Regions from separate parts of the Homo sapiens genome. Here region 1 is linked to region 2. Evidence: fine-mapped expression QTL. A gene starts in region 2. The other region holds a variant in brackets. All regions are shown on one strand. Distances are from middle to middle. Region 1 has its middle 6.5 kb from the start of CYSLTR2. Region 2 holds the start of LPAR6 (lysophosphatidic acid receptor 6).

Region 1 (10,063 bases), 240 kb before region 2:
ATTCACAATTGAATACTATTTACTGATTTAAAAAGAACAAAATTTGTCATTTGTGGCAACATGGATGAGCTTGGGAGACATTATGTTAAGTGAACTAAGCCAGGCATAGAAAGATAAATACTGCATGTTCTCACTCACATGTGGAAGCTAAAAAATTTGATCCTATAGAAGTGGAGAGTAGAATAGTGGTTACTAGGGGCTGGGAAGAGTACTTTCTAGGGGTGAGGGTGAGTGGTTTTCTGTGCAGCTTCTTCATGCAGCTGTGGAGAAGGGGCTGGGACCAAGGTTGCTCCTCTGAAGACAAGGTTCTTCCTGGGTCTGGGATTCTATTTCTAGTATTTTATTTATCCCAATTAGAACTCACAGTACACAAATGTTATATTACCATTCTCATCTTTAGGGGGCAAAAAGCTTGAAACAACATTTCATTCTACAAGCAGTCACTATAGATATTCATTCTTCTCCAATAAAAGCCCAATTGGCCAGGCGCAGTGACCTCACGCCTGTAATCCCAGCACTTTGGGAGGCCAAAGTGGGCAGATCACGAGGTCGGGAGTTGGAGACCAGCCTAGCCAATATGGTGAAACCCTGTCTCTACTAAAAATACAAAAATTAGCCAGGCATGGTGGCACGCGCCAGTAGTCCCAGCTACTTGGGAGGCTGAGGCAGGAAAATCATTTGAACCCGGAAGGTGGAGGTTGCAGTGAGCCAAAAAGCCCAATTAATTGACTAATGTTCATCTCATTAAAATGAATAAAGTGGGCTGGATGGAGTGGCTCACCCCTATAACCCTAGCACTTTGGGAGGCTGAGGCAGGAAGATCTCGAGTCCAGAACAGACTGAAAGCAGTCTGAGTGACACAGGGAGACCCCATCTCTAAAAAAAAAAATACAAAAATTAGCTGGACATGGTGGCATGTGCCTATAGTCTCAGCTACTCAGGAAGCTAAAGTGGAAGGATTGCTTGAGCTGGGGATGTTGTGGCTGCAGTGAGCTGGGATCACACCACTGCACTCCAGCCTGGGTGACAGAGCAAGACTGCCTCAGAAAAAAAAAAAAAAGGCTCATGCCTAATCCCAGCACTTTGGTGGGCTGAGGCGGGTGGATCACGAGGTCAGGAGTTCGAGACCAGCCTGGCCAAGATGGTGAAACCCCGTCTCTACTAAAAACACAAAAATTAGCCTGGCGTGGTGACAGGCACCTGTAATCCCAGCTACTTGGGAGGCTAAGGCAGGGAATTGCTTGAACCCGGGAGGCGCAGGTTGCAGTGAACTGAGATCGTGCCACTGCACTCCAGCCTGGGTGACAGAGTGAGACTCTGTCTCCAAAAAATAAAAAATAAAAATAAAAATAAAAAAAATTAAAAACTTTAAAATAAAATAAACAGTGAAAAAAAATCGATCCTACACTCCGAGAGCTAACTTTTGAATATTAGGTTTTCAAGGAGCAGAATATGTTTCAAGAGTATTAGAAAGATAATGAGGGAAATGCTTTCTCCCTACTCCCTGCTTCTGAATCTGTAAACCTCAGAGAAAGGAGAAACCTATTCAAGACTTTCTTTTATTTTTAGGACAGCCTGGGATCTCTAAGCACTCCATAGGCAGTAAATTTGCTGGAGAGTGCCCATTAGACACTCTTTCTTTGTACAATTTGGACAGATGATATAAAGAGATGCAATGTCATTTTAACCGGATTTGTCAGGATGGAGCAAGAAATCATTCATTTAGAGTAGATAGGGAAAGGGTCGATGACTTTAAAAAGAAGATAATCCTAGGGAGCAGAGAAAGGAATAAACACATTATCCTATGTGCTGCTCTTGATGATTTAAAGGAAAACATGGAAGCGTGTTTAATGTATATGGCACACAGAGAACTTCTCCGGAACTTTCAAAGGCCTGCAGAAGTAATCAAGAGATGAGAATCAACTCCAGTTTTGTAGGAGACTTCCAAGTTTGTTCTCAGTTGAACAAAGTGAGTTTAAGAGAATCAGGGCCAGTTTCTTGCTGATTACAGTAATGTACCAGCCACAAGGCCTTTAGTTAGACTTTTAGAGACATAAGCTTGAGTCTAGAGGATATATTCCTATAAGCACAAACCTGTGATTTTCAAAAGATCAGAAGCACTATTAAGTTACTAAGGCATCAGAGACAGTAGTTTGTTTTCATAGTGCAAGGTTAAATACAAAGGAAGAAGTCAGCGTGAATCATGTTTCTATTTAGGTCATTAAGAAAGTGGAAGAACAGGCTGGGCGCAGTGGCTCACGCCTGTAATCCCAGCACTTTGGGAGGCCGAAGTGGGCAGATGACGAGGTCAGGAGTTCAAGACCAGCCTGGCCAACATGGTGAAACCCTATCTCTACTAAAAATACAAAAATTAGCTGGGCATGGTGGCAGGTGCCTGTAATCCCAGCTACTTGGGATGCTGAGGCAGGAGAATCGTTTGAACCTGGGAGGTGAAAGTTGCGGCGAGCTGAGATTATACCGTTGAGCTCCTCAGCCTGGGCAACAAGAGCGAAACTCCATCTCAAAAAAAAAAAAAAGAAAGAAAGGGGAACAATGGAAACAAACTTGAAACCTCATGGAATTTAGAAAGCAACCAACTTTATGTGTAAGAGAGCCTGTTCTGTGATAAGACAGAGAAAAGAATTACGTAGTGTAGTGGGCTACACATTGGCACCAAAGACATGCCCATATTCAAATCCTGGATTCTGTAAATGTGACCTTATGTGGCACAAATGGTGGTTAATTAAGGATCTTGAGGCAACGAGTTTATTTTTCATTATCCAGGTGAGCCCAAAATACAATTACATGTATCCTTGTAAGAGAGACGACAAAGGAGTGTCAACAAGCTCACACAGGGGAGAAGGCCATGTAAAATGATTAAAGTGATGCAGCTATAAGCCAAGGAACACCTGGAGCCACTAGAACTGGTAAATCAATGAAAGACTCCCCCTAGAGCCTTCAGAAGAGGGAGTGCAGCCCTGCTGGCATCTTGATTTCTGACTTCTGCCCTCCAGAACTGTGAGAGAATGAATTTCTGTTGCTTTAATTTAAGCCATCAAGTTTGCAGTACTTTGTTATGGTAGTCCTAGGGAACACATCTACATTTCCCTTCTCCAACCAAGGGAACCCAAAATTCAGGGAGAAAGTTATAAACTTGCCATAAGATAACGCAATAGACTTAACTAATTCATAGTGAGCTTGCATCCTTTTTAGTTTGTTTCGATTTTCAGTCTCTCATATGTAATTCTCCCTTCAAAAAGAACAATTTAGCTTCCCAAGCAGTGTCAGCTCTCTGGAGAGGTGATGAGGCTGGAGTGAGCATTAATGTCCGCTCCAGTCCAATCAGAGTTGGGAGAGAAAGTAGCCGGAGAACTGTGCAGTGCGTGGGCCACATGACACCCTCTCCCCACTCATCCCTGGCGTCCCCCCACATACACATACATACACACTTACCTCTTTAATTTTTTTTTAGTATGTTGAGCAAATTGGAAGATTGCCAAATTAAGGATTCCAGAAGGGGGTTTTTCCAAAAGGGAGTTTTTCTTTGCATAATATCGTATGAGAGTGAGAATCAGGAGATTCTGGTTTGAACCCTAAGAGGCCCAGCCAACGGCCCTTGGAGAGGAGCAGGCCCATGTCCCACGGCATGATTTATATCACAAGTTTCAGGCAGAGCAGTCTTTGTGGAGATCATTGAGGACTGAACTCTGACCTCTTTCTCTTTGCTAAAAATTCTCTCCAAAAAGGCCTGGAGAGAGTCATACCTACAGACCATCAATCTGGCTAAACATGTCATTTTGACCCAATATATTGTATCTTGCTCTCATAACCCGACTCTGGCATAGCATCACATGATGACTAGCAAACTTCCTTCCTTTCATGTAAACATTTCTTTAAGCTGACTTTACACAGAGCTTTGTTCCTTTAACCAATTACAAATTAAAGAATCTTTGATCCCACCTATGACCTGTAAGTCCCCCAATTCATGATATCCCACCTCTTGGGGCTGAACCAATGTATAAACCTCCATGTATCAATTTACAACTTTGCCTGTAGTTTCTGCTGCCCTGAAATGCTTAAAACAGAGTTACAGTCCGACTGCCTTGGGACTCCTTTCTCATGGCCTCTTGGGTTTGTGTTTTCCCTGGGCCGTGGTCACTCATATTGGCCTAGAATAAACCTCTTTGAAATGTTGTGCAGAGTTTGGTTTTTCTGCTGACAGCATAAACATGGAGAAGGGAGCCAAAGTTACGTTAACACTCTTCACTCCCCTATCAGATCCTTCCCTTTCTTTCAGCCACCTTTTCTCAGACCCCAAAAATTTCCTGCTGCTCATGTAAGGCCTTTCCCATCCTGAGGGTACTAATTAGTCAAGTCACATAAGGCAAATTAGTGACTAAGAACATAGCATTCTGGAAAAAGACCACAGAATTAGAGCCTCCACAAAACCCATGGTACAGAAGAGACCCTAAACCCGCCAGCTTAGTTTCAAATCTGCAATTCCTCATCATCCCCTTTTGTTTTCTTCTAAATCCTAGCAGTAAGTCTGAGCACTGCTTGACTGGACCTTGAGGCTGGCTCCCTGGATTCTGTGGCTTCAGTCTGGGCAGGTGAGTCCTTCTTCACTCCCGCCTCTGTAGCCCTAGCTTCAGGCAGCAGGTGGCCACCAAGACCATGAGATGGAGATTTGAGAGATGATCTGGTCCTGTTTCAGCCAGGCTGGTGTAGGGTCTTGGAAACACACCTTGGGAACTTCCAGGGCTTCTTGCATATTGAGTGTATACAAGGCTCTGGGGATGAGGAAGGAAGAAAGATACAAAGATAAATAAGACCAGTTCTAGAACTCAAGGGATCTCTGGAGTAAACTTAATTTCTTCACATGAAAATCATTCATAGTACCATCTCCCAAAAGACAAATTTTTGGTGCATTCTCTGCCAGACAGTTTTCTAAGCTGTTGCTTGCTCATTTGTTGCTTCATTTGACAAAAATTTGCATCCTGCATTTTTCCCATTTACACTGCAACACAACGTTTTACCACATCGGCATGAATGTTTTAATTATTGAATTATATTCCTATATTCCATCAACAGGATGCGCCGTAGTGGGGAGAATAAACTACACTTCTTGTTATTTTTTCCCCTTATGCATGCAGCTTTTCCCTAATCTAGGATCTAGGTTAGTTTCACTAATAGAATGTAAGAGGGAGTTTGCAAACAGTAAGTTTCACATGGCAGGTCAGGGAAGAAGGACTTCTTGAAAAAAATGGCAACTGAGCTATAAAAATACTAAAGAAAGTTCTATTTTCCACCTACCCTGGGTTGAGACTGAGTTTGAAGCTAGAGCTTTAAGCACTAATGTAGGTGACTCAAGGGGAGGGTCCTCCCTGATAACAC[A/G]TGTGGTGGCCAGGCTCAGGGCCAGAGCACTGTGGCACAGCTACAGCACCTACCAGGGAGGTCTGCTGAGCACTGGGCAGAGCACATGCAAGGCAGGAGCAGCATCATCACCTGGCTGCCCTCTAGGCGTGGCTCAGTGCAGGCACATGCTCGGACATCTAGCAGTGCGGGTGGTAGCTGCAGTGGGGCTGGTGTCTTTCCTCCTTTCCCACCTGTGGATAGGAGATGACCCAGCTGGAGCAGAAGACTCAAGAGAATTTGGAAAATAGGCATGAGGAAGGTTGGGGTCAAGGACAGCAGGAGAGGAGATAGGTTGGAAACAAAATGTCACCCCAAATGAAGACCTCCAAGCCAGATAATTTCATTTGGTACCTTTACTGCCCAGGCTTGCGGGCCCACTGGGTGGGCTCAGTTCCCTTCCTCACCTCTACCCTGCTCTACTCTCTATAGGGTGCGGTGAGGGCTCACCCCTAAAGCTCAGACTCCCATATCAGCCCAGCTTCTGGCTGGATTTGGCACTGGTGGGAGGTGGGAAGGTGGAAAAAAAGGAGAAAAAAGCCAGAGCATTTCTCCCTGTATTAGTCCATTCTCACACTGCTATAAAGAACTTCCTGAGACTGGGTAATTTATAAAGGAAAGAGGCTTAACTAACTTATAGTTCCGTATGATTGGGGAAGTTTCAGGAAACTTACAATCATGGTGGAAGGCGAAGGGTAAGCAGACACCTTCTTCACAAGGCTGCAGGAGAGAGAAGTGAGGGAAAGAGCCCCTTATAAAACCATCAGATCTCATGAAAACTCACTCATTATCATGAGAACAGCATGGGGGAACCATCCCCATGATTCAATTACCTCCACCTGGTCTCTCCCTTGACGTGGGGATTATGATGATTATAATTCAAGATGAGATTTGAGTGCGGACAAAAAGCCTAACGATATCACTCCCCATCTGTTCTGCAGGTGGCATTTCTGATGGCAACTGTGTGTTCTGTGGGGCCCCAGCTTCTGTTGTGTGACTCCCAGGCTTGGGGAAACCTGTCTCCTCCCTGTATCTCTGCAGCCCAGGCATGGTGATGGCTTCTTGCTGTGTTAAACTCTGTGTTATCTCAGTTCCCTGCTTGTCTCTCAGCCCTTCCATCACCTGAGTAAACCTTCCCTGCTTTAAATATTCAGAATGAATTCCCAGGTCCCTGTGACCTGAAGGGTGGGTTACTCTAGTGAGCTTCTAGCTCTATGAGGAGCACATGTTCACTATGTCCAAATACTCCAACAGCCAGGTCCTGGGATTCATCCAGGTGCCAGTTCTGTGCTAGGCATCTCACACAGATCTCATGTAGCCATTGCAATGACCCTTTGCATTTGTTATTGTCCCATTTTGAAAATACCTAAATGATGAGAAACTTGCATTTCCAAGATGCTAAATAACTATGCGCCCTTTCTACCATTAGCCAATACTAGGGATACTAACAATAGATCCCTTTGACATTATAAATATATCTTCCTCATATTAGGGACTTTCTACTTACTAGCAGAAACTATGGGCTCCTCTTGGCATTGATGAGCATTTACGTGATGCTCACGTTAATTTGGCGCCACTAATGCCTTAGTTTATCTGGCTTTTCTCCATTTAACAGAGCTGAAGATAGGGGCGGTAAGTGCCTCTTAAAGTGAGCATGTGCAATCAAATATGCACAAGCTCATGAACCGAGAAAACAACATCGTGAAATGTACCATGCATTTAGTATCTAAGAGTGCTTTGTAGTGGTTTTAATAGCTGGAGACTCCAGAATTCCACAGAGCCCAGGAAATTGTATTATTTCATCCAGGTCATTAGGAACCAAGGGTTATTAGTCATTAATCCACTTAGGAACTGCTCAGACCAGACAATTCACTTTGCTTCTCAGAGATGCTCCTCTGGATGATGGTCCCAGGTGCAGTTAGCATTGCCTTCTGCTCTGGTGGGGAGGGGCAGATGCTGTGGAAAAGAGCCCTGCCTGGAGGCCAGCCTGAGCTCCATGCTGGTGAGGTGCAATGGGTGTTTTGGAAAAACAAACAAATGGGAAACATGTGGCAGTGGAGAAGAAATTCTGAAATTTGGATTTCCCACTTTCCAGGGATGTCAGTGTTTTTCCATTTCTTCTCCTGGTGCACATAAAAAGATTCTTCTGTTTTGAATGTGTTAAGTAATCAGGGGCCTAGAAGCATGAAACCTCAGGAAACCTAGTAGGGTATTTTAAAGAACCAGCTTGATACAAGACTGTTGCTTTCCTCTATGTATGACATGGTAGGAAAATAATAAATCAGCTTCTCGTGTGCCAGAACCAGAACACCTTAAGTATCAGTAACCCCATTGTCTAAACTGTGACTGCCACATAGCAAGTGCTCAATAAATATTTGTTGTGTGAAGAAAGGAATTGAATCACCTTGCCAACTTTAAGAAATACACCTGATTTTCCTCTTTCCTTCAGTCTTCCCTCTATCCATTTGCTAACAAACACTAAGCAGAAGTGTGCCAGTCCCTGTCCTGGACAAGAAGTAAGCAACAACACCTAAGACGTGGCTCCTGCACTTCAGAGGATCACTAGTGGTAGAGAGAGGCAGGAGGTGAACGTTCCTGAGCACTTGTGCTTGCAGGGCGTGGAGGAGGGAATGGCCAGTCCCAGGGCCCAGCTACTGCCTACAAGTGTCTCTGTGTGAAGGCTGACCCTTCTGGGTGTTAGGATTACCATAAGGTTTTCCTTTCATTGTTAGCCATAGCCTGGGGCAAAGACTCACCAGTTGCCAGGAACAGTAGCTGAATTTCCATCCTACCCCTTTCTCGGTCCAGAGCACAACTAGCACCGCTGTCTTGCCTTGCCCTGGTCAGGTCTTCCCAAGGAAGAGCACATCAGAAAACACTTCTGTGGGGCAGTGGGGCAGGAACTGACTCTGGAAGAGAAGCAGGTGCCCCAGGTGAAGGGAGGGCCTTTGTGGCAGAGGGAACCACGGAAAAAATGCCAAGGCATTCTGCAGAGGGCCACATGGGCATGAGCCACAGGCCAATCTGAGCTCTAATTTATGTCATCATTTCCAGCTCTGTGTCCACAGGTACATGACTTACCCTCTCTGCTGTACACTGAATGTTTGTGTCCCCCAATAATTCATCTGTTGAAATCCTCACCCACAAGGTGATAGTATTAGGAGGTGGGGCTTTGGGAGGTGGTCAGGTTATGAGAGCAGAGCACTCGTGAATGGGATTAGTGCTCTAATAAAAATGACCCCAGAGAACTCCCATAGGATTTCAGACTTCTAGCCTCTACATTTGTGAGAAATAAATTTCTGTTGTTTCTGTTCCACCCAGTCTATGGTATTTTGTTACAGCAGCCCAAGTGGACTAAGAGACGCTCTGAGCCCCTTTGCTCCCCATGAAATGGTGGTGGAGTGCACAGCGGGGTTGTTCTGAAGGCTGAGTGAGTTCCTGCGCATGAAGTGCTTAGCACAGAACCTGCTAACACACAGCAAATTCTGCTGTTTTGGGGGAGGATAAAAAATGAATTATAAATAGAGCCTCTCCTTCCAACAAATCTATAATCCTAAAAAAATATATATATGATTGTTCTCATTTTATATTTGAGGACACAGAGTTGGAACACTTAATAAACTGCTTAAAATTACTTTGATTTCAAGAATATCTGACTCCGGAGCCTGTGCTCTTATTTTTATCCTCATCCCCTTGTCACTTACTGGCACCTGGGGACTGGTGTAAGGCACTGCAATGGATATAAAGGCAATGTAAACTGCTTTAAAGAAATGGAGCCTACCAGAAAGGAGCCTAAAGTCTAGTACTTCAGAAAAGGCATGAACACAAAATTTGGACTCTAGATAGATGAAAATTTCACAGAGGAAGCTGATGAGTTTAGACTCCTATAATGTTGATTATCTTATAGGCAGGTGTGATGGTTAATTGTATGTGTCACTTTGTCTAGGCCCAACTGTTTGGTCAATCACCAGTGTAGATGTTGCTATGAAGGTATTTTTAAGATGAGATTAATATTTAAGAACATTGAGTAAAGCAGATTAGACTTCGTAATCCTTGATTAAGAGCAAAGACTGAGGTTCCCCAAAAGTAGAAAAAATTCTCAAGACTTCAACATGGAAACCCTTCCTGAGTTTCAAATCTGTTGCCTGCAAAATTTGGACTCAAGACTACAACATCAACTTGTCAATCGAAGAAAATGATGAGACAAGTCTCAATCATTTTTGGAGATTTATTTGCCAAAGTTAAGGACATTGCCTGGGAGACAGGTCTATGCCTTTCTCTGAAGATGATTTTGAGGGCTCCAAATTTAAAGGGGAAATGGCAAAGGGTGGGGATATTGAGAAGCACACAGTTTTCACATAAACAAAAGGGGCAGAGGAAAAATGGGGGGAAATCTGCATTTTACATAAGATAACACAGACAAAATGGGGTAGGGGAGCAATCAGATATGTATCTGTGTCTGGCAGGCTGGGTGACTACACCTGTAAGCTATCAATTTGCATTGCCATGGTGAAGTTTTAACAGCTCACTAGCAATTTCCTTGTGGGTAAAATATGGGGCAGGCGGGTAGCTCTTCATCTTGTAGACATCTTATTTGGTATCCAATAGGTGGAGGCAGGTTTGCATGACCCAGTTCCCAGCTTGACTTTTC
Region 2 (10,063 bases):
TCAGGCCCCTCTGCTGCAGGTCTGCTGGAATTTGCTGGAGGTCCACTCCAGACCCTGTTTGTCTGGATATCACCAGCAGAGGTTGCAGAACAACAAAGATTGCTGCCTGTTCCTTCCTCTGGAAGCTTTGTCCCAGAGGGGCACCCACCAGACGGCAGCTGGAGCTCTCCTGTGTGAGTTGTCTGTCGATTCCTGCTGGGAGGTGTTTCCCAGTCAGGAGACATGGGGGTCAGAGACCCACTTGAGGAGGCAGTCTGTCCCTTAGCAGAGCTCGAGCAATGTCCTGGGAGATCTGCTGCTCTCTTCAGAGCCAGCAGGCAGGAACGTTTAAGTCTGCTGAAGCTGCACCAATAGCCACCCATAGCACCCTTCCCCCAGGTGCTCTGTCCCAGGGAGATGGCAGTTTTATCTATAAGCCCCTGACTGGGGCTGCTGCCTTTTTTTCAGAGATGCCCTGCCCAGAGAGGAGGACTCTAGAGAAGCAGTTGGGCTACAGTGGGCTCCACCCAGTTCAAACTTCCCGGTGGCTTTGCTTACACTGTGAGGTGAAAACCACCTACTCAAGCCTCAGTAATGGCAGAAGCCCCTCCTCCCACCAAGCTCCAGCATCCCAGGTCGACTTCAGACTCCTGTGCTGGCAGTAAGAGTTTCAAGCCAGTGGATCTTAGCTTGCTGGGCTCTGTGGGGGTGGGATCCACTGAGCTAGACCACTTGGCTCCCTGGCTTCAGCCCCTGTTCCAGGGGAGTTAACAGTTCTGTCTCACTGGTGTTTCAGGTGCCACTGGAGTACGAAAAAGAAAAAATCCTGCAGCTAGCTCGGTGTCTGCCCAAACGGCTGCCCAGTTTTGTGCTTGAAACCCAGGGCCTGGGTGGTGTAGGCACCCGAGGGAATTGCCTGGTCTAAGGGTTGTGAAGATCACGGAAAAGGCATAGAGTCTGGGCCGGAATGCATCGTTCCTCGTGGCACATTCCCTCATGGCTTCCCTTAGCTAGGGGAGGAAGTTCCCTGGCCCCTTGCACTTCCCGTGTAAGGCGATGCCCCACCCTGCTTTGGCTCGCCTTCCATGGGCTGCACCCCCTGTCTGACCAGTCTCAATGAGATGAGCTGGGTACCTCAGTTGGAAATAGAGAAATCACCCACCTTCTGCGTTGATTTCGCTGGGAGCTGCAGACTCCAGCTGTTCCTGTGTTCACCATTTTAACATCTATCTGGCTCTGTTTAATTTTCGCTCCCCCCAAAAAATCCATATAAGAAATAAGTTGATTCTCAGAGTTAAGTTCCAGAAGTGTAGAGATCTCACATTAAAATAACAGTTTGCCTGAGTTTATCAAATACAAAAGTATCTATTAAATATAATTGATTATATGGATTCATTACCTCCCTTTGCAAGTAGTTACTCTGTATTTTTCCAATTCTAACCTAAGAATTTTTCAAAGTTTCTAAATTCCCCTTTGGTTCCTTAATTAGAGGCCAAATTTAATATCTGGAAAAAATGCAGTATTCAATTATCTTCTTCCTGTTCAAACAGTCCCTCTGCTATGGCTCTTCCTCAGTAGAAACAACTGGCAACAAAATTCAAGTTTATGATTCATTCATCAGCAAACATGTGAGAATCATCTACAAAGAACCAAGAATTGTGGTAAGAATTATACAAACATTTACTATGATACTGATAATAATGAAAAGCCTAATTCAACAAATAGTGATCTATCCATTTTTAAGCCCCAGTAACTCAAACATTAAAAAACTATAAATGAACAGGCCGGGCACGGTGGCTCACACATGGAATCCCAGCACTTGGGGAGGCTGAAGTGGGTGGATGACTTGAGGTCAGGAGTTCAAGACCAGCCTGGCCACATGGTAAAACCCTATCTCTACTAAAAATACAAAAATTAGCTGGGTGTGGTGGCGGGTGCCCATAATCCCAGCTACTCGGGAGGCTGAGGTGGGAAAATTGCTGGAACCTGGGAGGCAGAGGTTGCAGTAAGACAAGATCGCACCACTGCACTCCAGCCTGGGCGGCAGAGTGAGAAAAAAAAAAGAAAGAAAGAAAAAGAAAAAGAAAAGAAAAGAAAAAACTATAGATGAATGACTTAAGTGAATAACAAGTCAAGTGAGTAATGACAATATGTAGAAAAATATTCCAAGTAGAATTAATAAATTTTAATTATTTGAATGAGAAAATGCCGCCATATTCAAAATGAAAGTAAAAGTAGGATGAGATCAGCATATACAACTGCATATATTTCATTAATTAAAGATGACTAAAGAGGAGACTATCAATTTGAAAGAAGATTACTAAGATTTTGTTTTTTTAAAACATACTGAACCAAATAAAAAAAAAATAACAGTAAGACATAACTACTAACAGAAAATTTTTTCCAATGAGAATACAAGCTTATTAACCACTCCTTTTTTCATTAATGCTCACTCAGCTTCTACCAGCCTTCTAATAAGAACACACACATACATCTTTTCTATACCAAATGTGATATAAAAGATATTCAACCCTTCAAAATTTTAAGTATTGGTTATAAGTAATACTCATCTTTTTTTGTCATTTGATAATAGATGAATTTTCTAGTCCAGACAGTAGAAATAGATTATAGTTCATCAACAAATGACAAAAATTGCTGAGTGTGAAAGAATGGTGCAAAACAACACAAAACATTTTACTGTAATAAGTTATTTTTAAGCTAGCTAAGTAATTTATGAGAAAAAAATAAATTGTTCTTAAATTACTTAATACCCAAGAGGAAGAGTTTCAGCTTAAACTAGACCAAATTAAAAAAATAATAACAGTAAGGCATAACTAGATCTAGCCTTTTCTGAAGAAAATGATATTTAAAACAAGAAAAACATGTGCCATAGAGGTTGTGATATCCTCAATCTTTGAGGAAATAACACCTACATTTAAGTACCCTCACCTTACACACACTTTCTTCTTCTGATTTTGGAGTCTTTAAAATATAAGTATACTTTTTTTTTTTTTTTTTGAGATAGTCTCGCTGTCGCCCAGGCTGGAGTGCAGTGGCTTGATCTTGGTTCACTGCAACATCTGCCTCCCAGGTTCAAGCGATTCTCCTGCCTCAGTCTCCTGGGTAGCTGGGACTACAGGCACGCACTATTGCCCTAGGCTAGTTTTGTATTTTTGGTAGAGATGGGGTTTCGCCATTTTGGCCAGGCTGCTCTCAAACTCCTGATCTCAGGTGATCCACCTGCCTCGGCCTTCCAAAGTGCTGGGATTATAGGCGTGAGCCACTGCACCTGGCCCAAAATATGAGTATACTTTAAATATAAACATATAAACCATTCATAGAAACTTTTAGATGGAGACAAAATCTGAAATATATTTCAATATATAGTTAATGTCATATTAAGGGGTTAAGGGAAGAGCTGGGAGGAAGAAGGAAGATAAGACTATGAACCTAAAATTTTGCCAAGTAGTAGGATTTTTATTCTCTAAACCTTATTTCAATCAATTTAAGGTTAAAAAAATTTTGCTTAAAAAGATGCAATTTCATTTTGTGCTTAGAAAGTAAAATTAACACCACACCAAAGATAAACATTCTTGAGTTTGTTCTTTTGGAGAAATGAGTAATTTAAAAATTTAAACAGCTCTAAAATATTAATACAACTGCATAGGAAAGAGGAAAGAATGTTAGAAAATTGCTTATCAAAAACTAATGAGACCCAGGATAAGAGCTACTCATAATGATAACAATTAAATATTGAGTATTTTTCAGAAACCAAGAGTCAAATGCTTGTTATACCTTAAAGGTTAAAGGCCCCTGTTTCATAGTCATTAAACAGTTCTTTGAAATGCTATGTTAAGATATCACTAACAATTTCAATTTATAAATACACACCCATACACATTTTCTTTTCTAAATTGTCATATCCCAAACACGAAAACAATCGAATAAGAGAACAGGCTGAATAGTGATTTTTTTCTTTCAATTATTACTACTGAAACAAATCAAAACAACTCTGAGAGGTTGCCAGCACCGCAGAAGGCATTTCCACATAAAAAGAGTTAATGAGCAGACCACGCAGTTCAACAGCCAGTGACCATTTGCAAGCCTCCTAGGTATATTCCCAGCAGACACATTATCAGATTAAAGGAAGTGCAAACAAACTGGGCTGAAAGTTTCTTTGTCCAAACCCAGCCTCTTCTTCCTGTGATGTCATATTACAAATCTAGGAAGCCTTTCTTTTTCACTTCAGAGAAAGCGACCTCAAGATACAACTGGCAACTGAGGAAAAGGCCTCAATTCAACAAGAGCTAACAAGCTTGGGAGTTTATTTCGGAATCTTTAAAAGACTCTTCTGCTTACCCACAATCTGGGATCCACTGCAGGAAAACAAAAAAGGAAAACTTCATTTAAAAGAAGCAAGAAGTAAAATGGGACAAATTGGGAATGTTTAAGTCTCTGAAACTCTGCACTGAAAAGAAAATAAGATTGATAACTTAAGCTTAACATTCTGAGGCATAAAGAAACATTAACTTTGGAGTATTCATCTTGACTACTGAAATACAAGTTTAGAAGACAAGTGGTTTCATTCTGGTCACAGATCACAGCTTTTCTTTAAATTTATAATCCTATGGGTTGGACTCGTTGACTGTATTTTTTAAAGGTTGCTCGTCAGTTAACTGAGCCTTGGAATTCATGGATTTTCTAAAGACTAACAAATGAAAATATTTTCCTGTTGAAGAACCCAGCGGAAATTTTACAGCAACAAATTTCATGTTTCTTTTGGGTATTTCTGAGAAAAAGGAAATATTTATAAAACCATCCAAAGATCCAGATAATTTGCAAATAAATTGGAGGTTATAGAGGTTATAATCTGAATCCCAAAGGAGACTGCAGCTGATGAAAGTGCTTCCAAACTGAAAATTGGACGTGCCTTTACGATGGTAAGCGTTAACAGCTCCCACTGCTTCTATAATGACTCCTTTAAGTACACTTTGTATGGGTGCATGTTCAGCATGGTGTTTGTGCTTGGGTTAATATCCAATTGTGTTGCCATATACATTTTCATCTGCGTCCTCAAAGTCCGAAATGAAACTACAACTTACATGATTAACTTGGCAATGTCAGACTTGCTTTTTGTTTTTACTTTACCCTTCAGGATTTTTTACTTCACAACACGGAATTGGCCATTTGGAGATTTACTTTGTAAGATTTCTGTGATGCTGTTTTATACCAACATGTACGGAAGCATTCTGTTCTTAACCTGTATTAGTGTAGATCGATTTCTGGCAATTGTCTACCCATTTAAGTCAAAGACTCTAAGAACCAAAAGAAATGCAAAGATTGTTTGCACTGGCGTGTGGTTAACTGTGATCGGAGGAAGTGCACCCGCCGTTTTTGTTCAGTCTACCCACTCTCAGGGTAACAATGCCTCAGAAGCCTGCTTTGAAAATTTTCCAGAAGCCACATGGAAAACATATCTCTCAAGGATTGTAATTTTCATCGAAATAGTGGGATTTTTTATTCCTCTAATTTTAAATGTAACTTGTTCTAGTATGGTGCTAAAAACTTTAACCAAACCTGTTACATTAAGTAGAAGCAAAATAAACAAAACTAAGGTTTTAAAAATGATTTTTGTACATTTGATCATATTCTGTTTCTGTTTTGTTCCTTACAATATCAATCTTATTTTATATTCTCTTGTGAGAACACAAACATTTGTTAATTGCTCAGTAGTGGCAGCAGTAAGGACAATGTACCCAATCACTCTCTGTATTGCTGTTTCCAACTGTTGTTTTGACCCTATAGTTTACTACTTTACATCGGACACAATTCAGAATTCAATAAAAATGAAAAACTGGTCTGTCAGGAGAAGTGACTTCAGATTCTCTGAAGTTCATGGTGCAGAGAATTTTATTCAGCATAACCTACAGACCTTAAAAAGTAAGATATTTGACAATGAATCTGCTGCCTGAAATAAAACCATTAGGACTCACTGGGACAGAACTTTCAAGTTCCTTCAACTGTGAAAAGTGTCTTTTTGGACAAACTATTTTTCCACCTCCAAAAGAAATTAACACATGGACATTTTAAAGTCTTTAGTATAAAGAAAATTTGTATTCAATGTGTTAAGCATTAACATGTATTTTATTTGTGTATCCACTCCATCTGATTTTTCTGAGCCATTTTGATTTGTTCCTTCATTAAAAAAAATCTCTTAAAGTTATTTAGTGTCTAAAAGTGACTGACTTAAATTATGTGGTGCCAATCTGTAATGTCTTTGAATTCCTTTTTATATTAAATGATTTAATTTACTAAATTATTTTATACTAATTTATGTTTATGTAATATTTTATTCAACATACCATTTTTATTTTGAATTAAAACTACTAATCATATTTCTTAAACTATGATTAACAAATGAGAAAGAAGAGTAATTTGAAATAAATGTTTTGGGAGTATTTTAAAATATATGTATAACTAAAAACGTAGTCTTCTGTAGAAATGATGACATATTAACATTGTTGGAAGATCTTGAGCAGTAACACATTGATAACATTTTGGGAGTTTGGTCTGTGTAGGCAATTTGTAGAAAGCAGATGCTATCTATATGGTATGCTTTGAAGTTACTATTTTGATTTTCTGTATATAATGCACCCAATTTCAAAATGATATATGCCACAAAAATTGAGAGGGAGAAAACTAATAAAATGTCATTTTGCTAAGTTTTTACTTAGCAAAAAAATAAAATACTACCAGAGGTACATTTTAAAGGTGCACTTACATCACAGTCAAGAACTTATGTTTTAAGTATGTTAGGTCGGAGAAACATCAGAGATAGTGAAATATAGTACTTGGCATTTAGAAAGTAATATACTGTCACGTGTTGCTTATGATGCTTGCTTAGGTAATTATGTCGTGCAAACATCACAGTGTGTACTTACACAACTCTAGAAGGTATACACTATTACACACCTAGGCTTATATGGTACACCCTACTGCTTCTAGGCTACAAACCTATACAGCATGCTACTGCAAAGAATACTGTAGGCAACTGTAAAATAATGGTACTTGTGTATCTAAATACATCTCAACACAGAAAAGGTACAGTAAAAATATAGTATGATAATCTTATGAGACCACCATCGTTTATGCGGTCATTGACCAAAATGCTATTACGTGATGCATGACTGTAAATATTTTCTTTTCCTTCACTCTTCTGGCCATTTTAAGCCAAATATTGGGAAGTTCAAAACATTATTTCAAGTAGGCAAGATGTTATTGTACGTCAAAATGATTAATTAAGGACACAGTTCCTTACATTATAAAGTAACAAAACTACAAGGCCAAATAACTAAACAAAACTATATTTTCATTTCACTAAACATAAAATAGGTCTGGCTCTGAGGTATACTTTAGAAAAAAAGTACCAAGTACACTAAAACTTTTTTATTATCCAACATATTCCTTTTTTAAAAAAATTCAGGCCGGGCACGGTGGTTCACACCTGTAATCCTAGCACTTTGGGTGGCTGAGGCGGGTGGATCATAAGGTCAAGAGATCAAGACCCTCCTGGCCAACATGGTGAAACCCCGTCTCTACTAAAAATACAAAAATTAGCTGGGTGTGGTGGCACATGCCTGTAGTCCCAGCTACTCGGGAGGCAGAGGCAGGAGAATCGCTTGAACCCAGGAGTCAGAGGTTGCAGTGAGCCAAGATCTCGCCACTGCACTCCAGCCGGGCGACAGAGCGAGACTCCATCTCAAAAAAAAAAAAAAAAAAAAAAAAAAAAATCAAGCAGTTCTCCAAAGTTAACTAAAAAAGAATGCCTTCTATTTAAGGAAAAGGACATGTAATTAAATTCAGCATCCAACCTATCTGATTTCTACTGTCTTAATCTTTCAAGTCCTCAATACAACTTGGACAAAAAACTCTTTTAAGACATAAATTTGATTTTTGCTGTTCTCTGGGTTTGAGGTGTAATGATTTCAGAAAAATCACAATCATTTGCTAGACAGGTAAACCCATTTTCAATAAAATAACAGTGGGGGGTTTTCTTTAGGGATCCATGGTTTCCTTTAGATAAACCTAAAGCAAAATACATCTTTAATGCCTTCAGCCCAGGAGTTCCAAGTTAGAGTGAGATATGATCACACCACTGTACTCCAGCATGGACAACAGAGCAAGATCCTATCTCAAAAAAAAAAAAAAAAGAGAAAAGAAAAAAAACCCAAAAAACTAGTGAAGATACTAACCATGGTCCTTTATATCCCAAGAGAAATATATACATAATATAAATGTGTTTTCTTCCATTGACCTGAAATTCCTTTATTTGATATTACACTTCAGTAAATAAAAATACACTCTTTCTTAAACATACTGAGTTGAGAAGCAACTACCAATCTACTGATCTGGGGGAAAGGGGTGGAGAATTGTATAACTTTGAGATTTCTCAGAACTCTCCTCAGCTTAAAGATCTCAACTTAAGGCAAGATCATAAAACATGAATATAACTTTAAAATGCAAATAAAACAGTCATTAAATAGTTGTTATTACTATGTTCATAAAGAAACTTTTTGGTGTCTCTTGTCAACAGGAAGATAAATGAATCAAAAGTTTTGTAAGATTCTTCATAAAGCAATACATAACAGATAACAAACATGGTTTTCTCATCTAGAACTATGGAAAAAAAGTGTACCAGAACAAAATTTATTTTCCTTTGCTAGTGTTGTACTTTGTGGTAAGTCATATATTCTGAGGGTTTTCTCTTCCCTTCCCCCTTTATTCAGAAAAACCTATATTAATATTAGAACTCTGATGATTTTACTTTTGATTACCTGAAAATGATAGCACTAAGCCCCCCTATAAAAACTGTGCCCACTGTTATTAACATTTTCATAAAACGGTAGATGATTTGACTAATCTTCCTTCCCACATTAACTCCCTTCAAAGGAACACAGTAAGCTGAGAAAATTTTTCAGGTGTGGAAAAATGGCTTTCCAGCATCCTAATAATTTCTGAACTTAGAAATCATCTTTACTGAGAAAATATCAAGTACCTAGTTTATTTTAAAAAGCATAAAAATATATGTATTATATATATTATATTCACAGAAAATTAAACTGAAGACACTACTTAAGGAGCTATCAATGAACCTTAATATTCTACATTCAAAATGCTGAAAAGTAAATTGGAAATAGAAATCTTAATTATAGATATTGGTATTTAAAGAAATTAGTCACTAAATTGAGAAATATAAAATAGAAAATGGAGCAAACTTCATATTCCCATCCGAGAAACATTTGGTTCATGAATGGTACATAGTTATCAAGAATCTGAAGCAATTGCTTTTTGGTCCTACAATTTTGGACACCTGATGAACCAAGTATTTTGTCCTTTGTCAATATATTAAATTACTATTTCCAAGAAGAAGCATCACTACCTTCCAGCACCTAAACTTTTTTCGTGCCTAAATGCCAGTCCAACTCTGGATGTCACAAATGTTCTTAGTTGTGAATAAATTTTTGTGTAGAAACAATTTTATAAACAGTGCTTAGGCAGGGATGAAATCTTAAAGACTCCAAAAACAAACTTTTTAAAAAGCTTTTTGGGGCTTTCCTGAAAACTGAATTACCCATTTATAACATGGCTTCTAAGAAATAAATTACAAATTAAAAAGGACTAATGAACAAACTTAAGAATGTAGAACACACATTAATATCTAAACCGACCAGAGTACTTAATGATCAACAGCATTACTTATTTAGCAATATTTTCCAGAGATCAGCATGTACATAACTCCTAAAATCTCTAATTCTCAAATTTCTATTTTCTCTTTATCATTTTTACTTGATGTCAGACAGTTTTATAAAAGTACAAAGAATGTCAATTAAACAAGGCAACAGATCAGATAATAAATGAACAGGAGATTAACACCAGGCAAACTTCTCTCTCTTTTTTATTACCTTAAAATGATAGTGTTAAGCCTCTCCTACCTTCCTGTCTTCCTGCTCCCAAAAGATTTACTACAATAACCTCTTAAAAGGGTAGAAAATTACCTCTTTCATTGGAAAAGCAGTGTTAAAAA

Evidence for each region. PIP is the estimated chance that this variant, and not a neighbour inherited with it, causes the effect.
Region 1: its variant is fine-mapped to the expression of LPAR6 in whole blood (INTERVAL, PIP above 0.99).

Annotation. Positions count from the first base shown.
Region 1 is chr13:48,642,422-48,652,484 of GRCh38, reverse strand. No RefSeq gene overlaps it. Among named protein-coding and RNA genes, the nearest start is that of CYSLTR2, 6.5 kb to the left of the region's middle. The variant A/G (reference allele first, on the strand shown) is at 5,395.
Region 2 is chr13:48,407,277-48,417,339 of GRCh38, reverse strand. LPAR6 (lysophosphatidic acid receptor 6) reads left to right here and starts at 4,227. Exons shown (of 1, transcript NM_001162498.3): 1 at 4,227-6,202. The coding sequence starts at 4,917. The coding sequence ends at 5,951. All of the region lies in intron 17 of RB1 (RB transcriptional corepressor 1), which reads right to left. RefSeq lists an enhancer at 5,242-5,743.